Linked DNA regions of Homo sapiens. The protein of the gene in region 2 purifies or fractionates together with the protein of the main gene of each other region. This does not show direct contact. Each region holds a gene or a part of one and is shown on either strand. Other genes may lie near its edges.

The links.
Region 1: the proteins of PRPSAP2 (region 2) and GALNT16 purify together in Homo sapiens (affinity purification with mass spectrometry; 2 studies listed by BioGRID and IntAct, with this or other methods). This does not show direct contact.
Region 3: the proteins of PRPSAP2 (region 2) and IVNS1ABP purify together in Homo sapiens (affinity purification with mass spectrometry; 2 studies listed by BioGRID and IntAct, with this or other methods). This does not show direct contact.
Region 4: the proteins of PRPSAP2 (region 2) and TPD52 fractionate together in Homo sapiens (co-fractionation; one large-scale study listed by BioGRID). This does not show direct contact.

What each region holds. Positions count from the first base shown.
Region 1 is NC_000014.9:69,319,098-69,322,663, forward strand, and holds part of GALNT16 (polypeptide N-acetylgalactosaminyltransferase 16), read left to right. Parts: intron 1-1,613; coding exon 1,614-1,771; intron 1,772-3,566. UniProt on the Homo sapiens protein: Catalyzes the initial reaction in O-linked oligosaccharide biosynthesis, the transfer of an N-acetyl-D-galactosamine residue to a serine or threonine residue on the protein receptor.
Region 2 is NC_000017.11:18,927,565-18,931,130, forward strand, and holds part of PRPSAP2 (phosphoribosyl pyrophosphate synthase-associated protein 2), read left to right. Parts: intron 1-1,246; coding exon 1,247-1,393; intron 1,394-2,975; coding exon 2,976-3,134; 3' UTR 3,135-3,566. UniProt on the Homo sapiens protein: Seems to play a negative regulatory role in 5-phosphoribose 1-diphosphate synthesis.
Region 3 is NC_000001.11:185,303,714-185,307,279, reverse strand, and holds part of IVNS1ABP (influenza virus NS1A-binding protein), read left to right. Parts: intron 1-140; coding exon 141-266; intron 267-652; exon of another isoform or gene 653-792; coding exon of another isoform or gene 793-795; intron 796-1,636; coding exon 1,637-1,744; intron 1,745-3,566. UniProt on the Homo sapiens protein: Involved in many cell functions, including pre-mRNA splicing, the aryl hydrocarbon receptor (AHR) pathway, F-actin organization and protein ubiquitination.
Region 4 is NC_000008.11:80,168,743-80,172,934, reverse strand, and holds the start of TPD52 (tumor protein D52), read left to right. Parts: upstream 1-1,370; 5' UTR 1,371-1,491; coding exon 1,492-1,510; intron 1,511-1,813; exon of another isoform or gene 1,814-1,914; intron 1,915-4,192. Other genes in the region: TPD52-MRPS28 protein, read left to right, coding at 1,492-1,510.

The DNA.
Region 1 (3,566 bases), on a different chromosome or scaffold from region 2:
GCATCTGTGTCTAGCATGGGGTGGGCCCAGTGGACACGAGGACATCTCCCTCACTGTTCTGCCCTCAGGGAACCTCCAACTGGCTCCTAGGACAGGAGGCAACCCTAGAAGGTAGTATCGCTACAGAGTGGCAGCAGTTCAGGAGATCAGAGCTCCCCGGACCCTGGGCATGCCTGTCCAGTGAGGTCGGGGGCTAGGCTCTCAGGGGAACATAGAGGCCCTGAGCTGCTGGTGACAGTCCCAGTGTCATTCCACACAGCGATCCACTCCCCACAGGTCTAGCTGCCTTGCTGGGACCATCCCTCTAGGACTAGGCCTGTGATAGCATCCTCATGCAAGAGTTTTGTGAGTGGGCAATTCTCACCCTCCTTTCTGCTTCCTCTGGGGCCCCAGCTTCAGCCCAGGGCTGATGGTTGGGCGGAAAGTTGGAGTTGGGATGTACCCACAGTTGATGATATTTCATGGCACTCTGGAGAACATCCAGCCAGCAGTTTGGTTCAAGTAATGAGATGTCAGGGTGCTTGCATCCATCTGTTAATTTCAGATGTGTCCTTCCCCAGTGTCTGTTGCTGGAGACTCTGGGAGCACAGGGTAGGGTGTGGCCATGAAGGAACGGGATGGGCAATGGCATCTGCCATCCATCACTGCCCAGCACTTAGTGCCTGGGGACCAGTGGATCTTACAGGGGCCATTTCAGGAGCAAGCAAAAGTCCCAGAGAAGATGCATCACTGTCTGAGCACTTGAGTTCTGGTAGCTCTGGCATCAGCCTGCAGGGGTTTGCTGTCCTTACAGGTAGTTCTTTATGCAGCAGATTGTCCAAGCCCTGGTGTTTTACTGATCGGGTGCCTCATATAATGCCTAGGCCAGGGCTAGGCCCAAGTTTCTGCCTAGGAGACTGTCAATCTGCAGGCGCTTGGCAGCATCCATTCTGGTTTGTAGTCCCCTCAGGACACCTTGCCTTAGAGGTCTGGTGCACTCCAGGACTCACCCCCCCAATATCCCGCAAAGAACATTGGTTAAGAGCATGGGCTTTGGAGTCGGAATGACCAGTTTAAATCCAGACCTTGTGACTTAATAGCTCTGACCCTGGATGCTTTTTAAAAAGCCTCTTGATGGCCGGGCGCGGTGGCGCATGCCTGTAATCCCAGCACTTTGGGAGGCTGAGGTGGGTGGATCACTTGAGGTCAGGAGTTCAAGGCCAGCCTAGCCAACACCACGAAACTCCACCTCTACCAAAACTATGAAAATTAGCTAGGCGTGGTGGTGCGCACCTGTAATCTCAGCTACTTGGGAGGCTGAGACAGGAGAATCGCTTCAACCTGGGAGGCAGAGGTTGCAGTGAGCCAAGATCTGCACTCCAGCCTGGGTGACAGAATAAGACCCTGTGTCAAAAAAAAGAAAAAAAAAAGAAAAAAAGAAAAAAAAAGAAACCCTCTTGAGCCTCAGTTTTCTCTTCTGTACAGTGGGGGAGATAATGGTCTCCTCCTCATAGAGTTGGCGTAAGGCACAAATGAGGCCACGTGGCTGGCTCCCGCCTGGTGTGTGCTGAGCACTCGCCAAGCAGTGGGGTCCTCCTGCCTGTGGTCCTCTCTGATGCTGACCTTCATCTCAGGTGACAGGAACTCCCTCGAAAGGCTTTGATGAGAAGGCCTACCTGTCGGCCAAGCAGCTGAAGGCTGGAGAGGACCCCTACAGACAGCACGCCTTCAACCAGCTGGAGAGTGACAAGCTGAGCCCAGACCGGCCCATCCGGGACACCCGCCATTACAGGTACGGCCTCCATCGTGTCAGTGGAGGAAGAAAGACTGAGAGAAAGCCAACATTGTTTAGTTTGTCTTCTTTTACGTGTATCTAAGAAATGAGGATGATTTCCTCAGACTGTGTCCAGTGATTTAGACATTCAAAAACCCTCACCCTCTGTTGCTGGTTTACCTGGCCTACTGAGGCCCTGCCAAGACCAAGGAAACCGCTCCGCTGGGGCCAAGGAGGCCCCAAGGCACTTCAGTCTGGCGCCCCAGCAAAAGTGACCTGGGAGGGGACCAAAGGAGGTCCGTGGCAGTGGGTGAGCCAGGCGCTCTTGGGGCCTTACTGGTGGTGCCTAAAGTGGAGAGAGTCACAGCCCTGCACATTGCAAACAGTGGGGTGCTGTGGCCCACCCCATTGACCTCCCTTTCCTGCACCACAGCTCCACCTCCTCAGCAACTCCCAGAAATGCTTCCTAGTCTTGTTCTTAGTTCTCTCAGTATGGTGAGGTGGGAGAGGCCTTAGACCAGGACCAAGGAAGCCTCCACTCTCATCCCAGCTCAGTGTGCGTGACCGGCCTTAAGCAAGGCATTAGCCCCTCTCTGGGTCTATGCCCTTGTGTGTTCTGTCTAGAGGGTGAAAGTCACCATCTCCAGTCTTTCCTCTTCCTGCCGTCACCTGCACGAACAGTCTGAGTTCCTGATGCTGAAGCACCACCCCCCGCTCCCCATGACCTGGCCTTACCCACCTTTCCCCCAGCACTTGATGGTCCTGCAGTCCCAGATTCCTCCCTCCTTCCTTCCTTGCTTTCACACATGCTGTTTCCTCTGCCTAAACGCACCTCCTCCGCCCCACCTACCCTTTGAGCTACTTGGCTCACTTCGAGGACACTTGGCTCACTGTCCTCTCCTCCATGGAAGGCTCCTTCCCAACCCGGGCTAGGTTGGGCCCCTCTTCTGTGCTCTGTGCAGACATCTCACAGAATGGCCAGGGCGCTGTTGGAGCTGACTCACGGCTGTGCCTGCAGCTGTGTGCTCAAAGCTAGGCTGGGCCTCCGTCTGGTCCTGGCTTGAGGGTAGCAACAATGACTTGGATCAAGGTTGCTTTTACTTCTGAAGCAGCTACTCCACAGCACAAAGGGTATAGGTGAGGTGAGGGTGCGAGAGGGCCTGGTTCTAGCACCTTCCTTGTCACTCACAGATGCATGCCTGAAGTCCAGGGTGCTTGGTGGCCTGTGCAAGGTGAGATGAACACAGGGCTGGGGGAGCCCCAGACCTTGGCCTTGCTGTCCTGTAACGCCAGCACTGTCAGCCTCCAGAAACCACTCATGCAGCCAAGTAAGGCAGTACTCCTGCTTCGCGGCAAGGACACCACCAGGCCTGCTGGCTGTTTCTGGGCCTCAGAAGTTCTTTCTCACCCAGTCCTGGGCAGCATCCCCTCCTGTCTGCCTGTGCTGCAGAAGAGGTTACATCCACATAGCTCCACTTAGAGACCTTTCATGGGCAGCCCTAGCCATGGCTGACCTAGTCCCAGGGTCTAGAGGATCTGTTGGCCCCAATCTGTGAATTGAGGGCTTGCCCTGGATAATCTCTGTTCACCCCCCAGCTTACCTGACTCTGAACCGCCTCAGGTGCTCACTGAGAAACTTAAAGGGGGAATTGCCCTGGGGGCTATGTACATTTTTAAATGAGACGCTTTAAATCCAGGGTAGTGGTGGGTTGATGAGGTGCCACATGCTGCTGCTGGGCCCTGTCAGAAAGCTGAGGTGGGCCAGGCACGGTGGCTCACACCTGTAATCCCAGCACTTTGGGAGGCTGAGGTG
Region 2 (3,566 bases):
AGGTTGGGGCTATTATACATAAAACTCGCTATGTACATTCATGTATAGGTTTTTGTGTGAACAGAGTTTTAATTTCTCTGGGATAATTGCACTTACAAATGCAGTTGTTGGTTTGCATGGTAGTTGCAGATATACTCTTATAAGAGACTGTCAAACTGTTTTCCAAAGTGGCTGTACCATTTTACTAGTAGGACTTTTAAAGTAGCGTGTGTGTGTGTGTATGTATTTTTTTTGAGGTATGGTCTGGGTCTGCTGCCCAGGTTGGAGTGCAGTGGCTTGATCACAGATCACTGCAACTTCTACCTCCTGGCTAAAGCAATCCTCCTGCCTCAGCCTCCCAAGTAGCTAGGACTACAGGTGCGTACCTCCATGCATGGCTAATTTTTGCTTTTCTGTTTTTGTAGAGACTGGGTTTCGTCATGTTGCTCAGGCTGGTCTTGAACCCCTGAGCTCAAGCAATCCTCCCACCTCAGCCTCCCAAAGTGCTGGGACTACAGGCATGAGCCACCACGCCTGGCCTTTATATGTATATTTTTGATCATAGTAACATCAGTATGCAATTAAAGAGTAATAATATGTATGTAAAATAAAGACACGAATATTTATTCAACTCTAGACAACGTTTGATGCCATAATGGGTTTAAAATAACTCTGGGAGCCTGGGAATCTAGTCTCTAGATTGGAAACCACTGAACTGGGTATTTTATTATTAAAAACAATAATCATTATTATTTTTTCCATTGTAATAACATGTAAAAAAACATATTTCCCATATGCTCAGTGGAGAAAATTTGGAAATAAGGAAAGTAGCAAGAAGAAGTGGGGGGAAAGAGGCACCCATAATTCTATTACCCAGAGTCAAAAACATCTTTTAACACTTTTTCTGTGCATTAAAAACAAAAAAAGAAAATTATACCTCCATCATTTCTGGTGTGACCTGCATTGTGACAGCACAATGTTGGCCAGTTATGGTGCAGAAAACAGTGCTACCCCTGGGAGCCTGGAGTGTGGTGGGAGATAGCTCCAATAGTGGCAGGTGCTGTGCAGGAAGAGGCTCGTGTGAAAGTACTGGAGGGCTGCCATGGGGCACGGTGATGGGGACATGGGGCCATGCCGTCTGCACAAGGCCAAGTGGAAGAGCAGATTTTTCACGGTAAATGTAGGCAGACCCTTTTTTTTTCCTGGTTGTCTAACCTATTATTGTAGAAGTGCTCATATACATTCTTTTCCATCTGTGCTTTGGCAGGATGACATCATTGATGATGTTGACAGCTTTCTTGCTGCAGCAGAGACCCTGAAGGAAAGAGGTGCATATAAGATCTTTGTGATGGCAACTCATGGCTTGTTGTCTTCTGACGCCCCCCGGCGGATTGAAGAGTCTGCCATTGATGAGGTAACAGGGTCTGGGTGTGTGTGGGTACAGCTGCCTGGGCTTTTGGCACATCTTGATCTTTAGTTACAGAGAGTCAGGACAAGACTGAGATCTTTTGTGGCTGAGAAACGATTCAAGGGCTGGGTGCAGTGGTTCACGCCTGTAATCCCAGCACTTTGGGAGGCCGAGGCAGGTGGATTACCTGAGGTCAGGAGTTGGAGACCAGCCTGGCCAACAGGGTGAAACCCCGTCTCTACTAAAAATACAAAAATTAGCCGGGCGTGGTGGCACACACCTGTAATCCCAGCTACTTGGGAGGCTGAGGCAAGAGAATCACTGGAACCCAGAGGGCAGTGGCTGCAGTGAGCCGAGATTGTGCCACTGCATTCCAGCCTGGGTGACAGAATGAGACTCTTGTCTCAAATAATAATAATAATAATAATAATAATAATAATGTGTACAACTCATTGGTTTTTAGAATGTTCAGAGTTGTGCAGTCATTACCATAGTTGGTTTTAGAACATTTTCTTCTTCCTAGAAAGGAACCCCATACCCATTAGCTGTCACTTCACATTTTCTCTCACTGCCATTAGTCCCTGGGAACCACTAATCTGCTTTCTGTCTCTCTAGATTTGCCTGTTCTGGACATTTCATATAAATGAGATTATACAATGTGTGGTCTTTTGTGTCTGGCTGTCTTCACTCAACATAATATTTTCAAGGTTCATCCATGTTGGAGCATGAATCAATACTTCATTTTATGATCAAATAATGCTGTGTTACATGGATAGTCCACATTTTGTCTCTCTCTTCGTATTTCATGTTGATAGAAAAAATTTTTTTTCTACTTTTTAACTTATGAATGGTGCTGCAGTAAACATTTGTGTACAAGTTTTTGTGTGGACATGTGTTTTCTCTTCTCTTGGATACGTACCTAGGTTTAGAACTGCCAGGTCATACAGTAACTTCATGTTTAAACTTTCAAGGAGCTGCCAGACTGTTTTTCAAAGCAGCTGCGCCATTTTACATTCCCACAGCCGTGAGTTGGGGGGGGGCTCCAGTTTCTCTGCATCCCTCCAGTACTTGTTATTATCTTTTTTGCCATACCTATCCTAGTGGGTGTGAGGTTATCAAATCTTAACCTAAGAAACACAGGCTGGGCGCGGTGGCTCACGCCTGTAATCCCAGCACTTTGGGAGGCCGAGGCCGGTGGATCATGAGGTCAGGAGGTCGAGACCATCCTGGCTAACGCGGTGAAACCCCGTCTCTACTAAAAATACAAAAAAATTACTTGAGCGTGGTGGCGGGCGCCTGTCGTCCCAGCTTACTTGGGAGGCTGAAGCAGGAGAATGGCATGAACCCAGGAGGCAGAGCTTGCAGTGAGCTGAGATGGCATCACTGCACTCCAGGCTGAGCGACAGAGCAAGACTCCGTCTAAAAATAAATAAATAAATAAATAATTGAAACATTGACTTGAGACATAGATCCACTGTGTTTTCCTGTCGTGGCAAGCCTCAGATTTGAGAAGCTGTCACATTTCCAGATCAAACCATGAAGCTACTTGGCTTTCTGATGCTGTGGTTTTTTTTCTTTTGCTTCACAGGTGGTGGTCACCAATACAATTCCACATGAAGTCCAGAAGCTCCAGTGCCCCAAGATTAAAACTGTGGATATCAGCATGATCCTTTCAGAGGCGATCCGTCGGATCCACAATGGGGAGTCCATGTCCTACCTTTTCAGAAACATAGGCTTAGATGACTGAGTTTTCCTTTAGGAAAACTCCCGAGGGCCAAACTGGAAACATAAGAGTGACTGCTCGGTGGGATGGATTTCACAGGAACCGTCATGCTTGTTCCTCCCTCTCCCCTGTAACCTCACTTCTTATTGATTCCTAAGAAGATAGACCAACTTTTTATGTCGGTTTGGGTGTTTGTGAGTTTGGGGAGCAATTTTTATAAAAGAAAAACTTTATTCTCCTCTTTTGAAAAGGTAAGACCTCGTTTTAGTTGTAACTGTTTAAAAAATAACACTTGGAATAAGATTTGTAAGCTCACAAAGCCTTCTTCCAAAGTTGCTTGAGCCAAGTGCTTAAAAAGTTAATAAAATAAAATGATCTGTATGATACCTGCAATTGAAAAGCCGAAAAGATTATACTGTCAAGTCCAGTAAATGACATTTTTAGAGATGCTTTTGT
Region 3 (3,566 bases), on a different chromosome or scaffold from region 2:
CAAATTCCTGGTTCCTTACAAATTAGAGTAAATGTATGGAATGAATTGTGCATCTGTGACAACTTTATTATGAAATTGGGAATTAAGCTGAGAACTAGGAGCCCAACACTGATCCATGTCATTGTTTTTCCCAATTCTAGTTGGAGGTAATGCTTGAAGATAATGTTTGCTTGCCCAGCAATGGCAAATTATATACAAAGGTAATCAACTGGGTGCAGCGTAGCATCTGGGAGAATGGAGACAGTCTGGAAGAGCTGATGGAAGAGGTTAGTTTTAAAGTAAATGGGATTCAACCATTTTTAAAAATTATTTTGCTATAACATGAAGGATTCCCTTTCACTTTTATTTTATAACCATGACCCTAAAGAATTTAAATTTTGCTATAGGTACCCCTAAGCTGAGAAACAGGGGGGGTGTCCAGGTGAGCTGAATGAACTGTTCAGTTTGGTCTTCTGCTTTTCTTTTTTTATTTCTTTGCTTATTATGTGCTGTTAACTTTCTTTAAAGTAGCATGTAATTTGCTTTAGAAATGGGAAGTGGTACTGAAATTTTCTGTAGATTCTTAATTTTTCTTCACAGGTTTTTGCTTTAAATTTGACAAGTAGGTAAAAGCTTCTAATGGTTGTTCCTCCCCATTGATTTATCTCCCCATAGGTTTATTAACAAAACTAGGATACCCAAGACTGAAGAAACAAGAAGAAACCTCAAGTGTATTGACACGTAAAGAAGCAGCAGTCCTGCCCCAGTTCTCCTAAGAAAAATCCGCTGTGGGCAGAGAACGATGATGATTTAATGGTGTTTACTCCTTTACAGGATTCTTGTCTTTAAAGCTGTGTGTTTTTCAATGGTGTTGTTCATACATATAGTCACTCACTTAACTTGGGCTACTTTTAAAAAAAATACACAAGATAAAATTGATGGAGAAATGGTGGGAATTGAAAACACGCAGGTGGAGCAGTGGAGTAACCTTGAGTTTCTCTCTCCACTTAAACCTTTCGGAGTTCCTTTATGAGGGCTTACCAAATCTGTTAGGCCTGCAGAAACACTGTCATCATTATGGTCTAAAAGGGCTAACAGATTATCTTTAAATTCTATGATTCCCACTTGAAAGTCAGATGCATTTGCCATGTATTTGCATCTGTCTCAATGGAGATGACTCTACAGCTTGCTTGAATTTTTGCATTTGTTTTTTCTTTGTTTTTCTTGACATTGCTTACAGGAAGGAAATATGTTTATGCAAACCAGACCACTTATCTGCAAAGGTGTAAACTATATTCAGTATTTTATTGTAAATATGTATATTCTTTAAGAGTATATATTGTACTAGTGCTTTTTTTCTTACTGTTATATGATAGAAGCTATGAAAAAAATGAAGATTTCTTTCAAGCCAATCAAGCCAACGACTCTTCAGCCAGTATTGGAAGATTTTGTATTTGATTTTGGTTTTTTGTTTTTGTTTTTTAATTTTTACCACCATGACATGTATTTTTCTTTACCTCCGGATCCTGCCAGAGTAATATGTCAAGAAGCTCAAGAAGCACACTGGAGGTTACCTTGAGGCGTTTGTGTAATCTGCATACTAGTGGAGTAGCCATGGTGACCGTAGCCACATGGGTGTTCTGTTGCTGTTTTGCAGGTTCAAACCTTGTACTACTCAGCTGATCACAAGCTGCTTGATGGGAACCTACTAGATGGACAGGCTGAGGTGTTTGGCAGTGATGATGACCACATTCAGTTTGTGCAGGTACACATTGCACAGTCTGAGGTAACCTCAGGTTAAAATTTGACTAGAGAATTTGATAGCATACTTAAATTTTCCTTTAATAAAGGAAAGTGGACCAATTTCATTGGTATAACTGGACAGAAACATTTTTGGGAGAAAACAAGCATATCTTAGAGTTAGTATTTTTGCCACATGAAAAGATATTAACAAATTAGGAAACCCTATTGAAATTTTTTTCTCATAAAGCAGGAATTACAAACAGTAAAGGCCAATAAGATGGAACAATATAGAAATTATTTGGGAAGATTATGAAAAGCAGTTGTTTGTGTCAGGCATGACTGATAGTTTTTTTTAAAAAGGGGCAGGGGGACTTAAATTGTTGATGGCTATGAAAGAAATTTTTGGATGTTACCTTAACTACTGAGCTGTCTTACTGGAAATTAGAAATGGTATAGTTAAGATGGACTATACAATGTAATAAGTCTAAAAGTGGTGGATCATATGTTAAAACCTGATCTAGATGTTTCTTTAACCAAGATGAATTAAAATATAGTAGAGTTCCACTGTGCTGATTGAGTTACTTTGCCTTTTATAAAATCCAATTTCATTTTTCCCCTATGAGTAAACACATAATTATTCAGACACATTATCAACAATTACTAGAGAACAAACTTCTCAAGTATAAATTTTTTAAGTTTATGGACAAATACAGAAAAGTACACAAGTCATAATTACCACATAGTGAACCTACCAGTGTAAACACTACCCAAGTCAAGAAGAGGTTTCTAGCATCCCGGCAGCCTTTCTCTTGCCTCTTCCCAACCGTTTCCGTATAGTGCTCCCAAAGGAAACCATTATCCTACCTTCTGACACATTAAATTAGTTTGGCTATGCTTGAAAAAATTTATATAAATGGTCATATAGTATATATTTTTATTTGGCCTTTAGCTCAAATTATGTTTTTGAGGGACAAGCTATAAAGCAGTCGACTCAGCCCAGACTAAGGAATGCTTTTCTTTAAAAATCAGAGGGTAAGTGGTAGACTTAGTAGTAGCCTATATGGTTACAAATTATCAGGTGTTAGCTCTCTCAGGTGTCCTGTGGCAACAGTGAGTGAATATTTCTAAAAGTTTTGGAATTTGAATTAGTTGAGAACCTATGTTTGTGCATTTTGAATATATTGAGGATATTTTCCCCCTTAACTCTAAACATTTTGAGTTAACATTTTAAAAGTACATTTTCAACATGCAGAGGTTGAGTGCCCAATAAGTGGCAGGCCATAATGTTCGGTATGGCAACACAAAAATGTGTAAGAGACAGTTTCTGCTTGTAGGACCTTCTAAGAGTGGGCAAAACAATACAGGCTTATAAGAGGTAGCTACGAAAGGCCTAAAGGAGAGGACACAGTGAGACAGGAGAGAAGCCAGGGATATTTCACACAAGAGGTAACTTTTGAGCAGTGTTAGGATTTAGAGGAGTCTGCATAGCAGATAAAGGGAGAGGTGTTAGCAAAGAGTATCTGTGAGGATGATACTCTTGGAATTGCAGGTCATAAGACTGGGAAAGTAGGTAAATGCTCCCTGAATGGGGCTTATACTTTATCCTATAGGCAGTGGGAAGCCTTAGGTAAGAATACAGTGATACGAAAGTTTTGCATTCACTTTAGTAATGGTGAAAAACTGGGGAACAGTCTATTAGGTGGCAGTCTTTGGGCTGGAATATCCCAACTGATTTCTGGTTTTATTTTCTAAAATTGTTGCCTTGGACCCTTCCTATTTTTATAACCAGACACAGAAAATCAATAAAAGTTTGAGCCCAGTTTATAGACTATTGCCAGCAGTAG
Region 4 (4,192 bases), on a different chromosome or scaffold from region 2:
GGCTGGTCTCAAACTCCTGACCTCAAGTGATCCACCCGCCTTGGCCTCCCGGAGTGCTGGGATTACAGGCGTGAGCCACCGTGCCAGGCCTGTTTTTTGATTTTTTTAATAGGCCATTTTAAGGACTTTACCACCTGGAGCTTGTAACCTAATAGGACTGTGAAACATACACTGGTAGCATCCTGGCACCAGTGCTGGGGTGAGTGCCACAGGAGAGGAGCCAAGTGCAGTCAGAGTAGAAGGACTCAAATAGAAGAGATCACATCTGGTTGAGTCAAACAGTAAACGTCCCCAGAAGACACTGGAAGATGCAGGCTGGAGAGAGCTACACTTTACATACAGCACGACAGTATAGAGATATTAATAGCATACAGTCACTTCAGGTAACTACAAGTAATTTTAAAACATCTGAATAAGTGCTTCTTTGTTGTCTGTGGAGTGCTACACAATGCTTCGGCCTAAACGTCAAGCAACACAGAAAAGAAGCCCCACTTCATTTGCAGCCTCAGATAGCTTACGAAATTGAGACACCACCTGAAGACCATGACCCATACAATCAAAGTGACTTCATGGAAGACGAGTAACTGCAAAACCCTGTGAAAACAGATTGTTAACGCTACTAATGAAAAGAACTGGATTGTTACGGGAACCTCAAACTGTCCTTTGATCAACGGACATGACGCCTCAACACGCATTTTCCAAAGATCTCTGCTGATAATTCTGACCTTCGGTTAATTTAATTAATTTCATTTGATTTAATTCATTTTAGTGTTGTCCTCAGTCCCGCACTCAAAACAGATTTTTATTATATGAAAATCTTCCTAGTCACCTAAAAAATCCGCATTCTATGGAAAAGACTATATAATTTTTCAAGAGATTCTTTGCAATTTTCACCTATGCTGGTTTATGACCTAGTTAGAGAAGACATCATAGGGCATTATTTAGGTAATAAAATACAGAGAGAAAAGAGCCACTGGCATTTCTAAATAACGTTCCTGTGTTTCCTACTGTAAGTATAGGAAAGTAGGTGTTCGCAGATGCAGAGAAAGGGCATCTCCAAGGCCTCGGAGGAAACTTTTGATTTTATAAATAACTTGATGGTGGAAGGCAAACGCCATCCCGGTTCCCAAGCAGGCTCCACGCAGCCTCCATGGCCGAGTCCATCTCCTCGCCGTCCTCTTCCCTCCTCCCGGCCGACTTCCAGCCGGTGCGGGAGTCGGGGTGCGCCCGGCCCTCCTAGCGCTGCGCCGCCCGCGCCGACGTGGCGGAGCGCACAGGTCGACCGGGTCAGGTGGTTGGGTGACGCCCCAGGAAAGCGCTCCAGGCCGAGGGCGGGCGGCGCCGCCGCGCCCGACGCCTCTGGGGGTGGGGACTTCGCGGGAGTCGCCGGCGGAGGCGAGGAGGAGCTCTGCGCGGCGCGGCGGGCGATCCGAGCCGGGACGGGCTGCAGGCGGGGGTGCTGCAGAGGACACGAGGCGGCGGGCTGGAGACATGGACCGCGGCGAGCAAGGTGAGGGCGCGGACCCAGCGGGCTTGGGCTCGGGCTTGGACTCGGGCTTGGACTCGGGCTTTGGCTCGGCGCGGGGCTGAGCGCGGCCCGGCGGCTCGAGCAGGTGCCGAGCCTCCTGGGCCGGCGCCGCAAGTTGCATCTCCCGGATCCGGATCTGGCATCCTGGGGCCCTGGAAGGAGCGGCTCTGGCGGGGGCAGATGGGACTGCATGTGTGAGTGTGAGTGTGCGTGTGTGGGGGAGAGGGAGAGAAGGTTCTGGGAGGTGGCGAAGGGGCTAGCGTCAGGGGCTGGCGGCCGTGATGCGCTTTGGGTGGAAAGCCGCGTGAAGGGAGCACGGCGCAGCCAGCTCCTGTAAGTGACTGGAACCAGGAACAGAGGACAGTGAGTCGCTCTCGTCCCTCCAGGTGGGAAACCCCTCTCTCCCTCATAAATTAAGACTTTCTGCCTTCTTCTAAGTTCAGGTGGTTAGGATTTTTGGTGGCGTATGACCCATGGGGGGTTTGGGAGGCAGATATTTATCATACTAGAAACCCCCAGATTGTGGAGTGGTGTCTGTGGGTTTGAGGGAAGAGAGCTTTTCGTAGGAAGGGTGAAATCCCACAACACAAAACCTTCAGTCTAATTTACCATAGCGTTGGGTGCACTTGCTTCTGAAAACAGCTCAAGTGAAATTACCCCCAAATAGAGCAATAGTAGGCCATGGTTTTCAGATTTAAATAGTTTCATCCTAGAGATCTCTGCTGATCATAAGCCTGTGACTGTACGCAGATGTGTGTGGCACGCTTTTAAAAAGATACATAAATGCTGAAAAAAGAAAACAAGGTAGGTAATCTTGGGAAGTGAGGATAGGAATCACTCCTGTTTTGAGCCCTGACACAAGTTTTCATGTATTGCTTATTTTCCTCCAGTATGTGCCGTCATGTGTGCATTTTTATGTAAATCAAACCATATTCCAAATATACTATCTTGTACTTTATTTTTTTCAGACTCTGGTGTTTTTTTTGTTTGTTTTTTTGAGTCTCCACCTGTAGCCCAGGCTGGAGTGCAGTGGCGGGATCTCAGCTCACTGCAACCTCTGCCTCCCTGGTTCAAGTGATTCTCCTGCCTCAGCCTCCCAAGTAGCTGGGATTACAGGTGTGCGCCACCACAGCCCGGCTAATTTTGTATTTTTAGTAGAGACAGAGGTTTCTCCATGTTGACCAGGCTGGTCTCCAAGTCCTGACCTCAGGTGATCCACCCGCCTCAGCCTCCCAAAGTGCTGGGATTACAGGTGTGAGCCACTGGGCCAGGCCTGTACTTTACTTTCATTTACTTGTAAGATAGACTCTTTGGAGTCTTTCAGCTCTTTCCTCGCTCCCCTTCAGATTAATTTCAGACTTAACACAAGTGCTTACAAACATTACATACAATATGCTTTATATGTGTTACCTATGTGTATATATATATTATACATTACCTGTATAACGTATATATACACATACATATTATTATCTAAATTTTAAGCTTCTTGAGGTTAGAAACATTTCATCTTTGGTTGTCCTGAGTGGGATAACATGATGACTTGTACATAGTAGACATGCAAATGTTTGAGTTAGAAAGCTTGTCACATGTCTTGTATATATTGTTAGCCGGCTTAGGGGCCACCATGTAAGTCAGCATTATGTCTGTCTGGCTTTCAATGGGGGCGACGCAGGACGGGGGAGACATGACGACAAACGTGCCCATGTGTATTTGTATACTAATCTGTTACACACTGTCGTTTGACATAATGATGTTTTTAGAATAACTATGTTTGGTACTTGTCAAAGTAAATTAAACGGCTGTGTTTTACTTACGTGAGTGGAGTAACTAGTTTTAGTAGTGTTTGTGTTCTAGCTTGGGTGGTAAGAATCAACAGTCATTGGTAGCACTGCAGTATTCCAACTTCTTGTGTAGTTTTTATAGGACTAGTTTAAGTGTCTAATTCTAAGACATATTTTTTTCAAATCTTTATCTTGTAAGATGAGTCTTTTCGTGTCTATAATTTTCCCATATGTTCTTTGGGTGAGGTGGAGGACTCTGCTCCGAATGAAAGAAGAGGCACTGCCTTGGGAGGGTCAGTTCATTTACTCCAAAGCTTTGCTGTGTTAGAACAACGTGGCCAAGGCTGGGTGCGGTGGCTCACACCTGTAATCCCAGCACTTTGGGAAGCTGAGGCAGGCAGATCACTTGAGGCCAGGAGTTTGACCCCTGTCCAACAAGGTGGAACCCTGTCTCTACTAAAAATACAAAAATTAGCTCGGCGCGGTGGCACCGGCCTGTAGTCCCAGCTATTCAGGAGGCTGAGGCAGGAGAATCACTAGAAACTGGGAGGCAGAGGTTGCAGTGAGCTTAGATCAAACCACTGCACTCCAGCCTGGGCGACAGAGCGAGACTCTATCTCAAAAAACAAACAAACACAAAACAAAACCACCTGGCCATTCCTTACTCTTGCTTCCACCTGCCTACCTGCCTTTTCATCTTTATGTTACCAGTGCACACAGTAGGTGCTTAGAAATATGTGTTGACTGCCTAAGATGAGTGAGGAAAGTGTCCAAGAGCAGGCCCCAGCCATAGTAACCTCTGTGTCCCTCCAAATCCATCTCTTGTTTCCCACTTTCTCCTGTTCTGTTTTCCCTGTCTATTCTCAAGAAGCAGAACTTA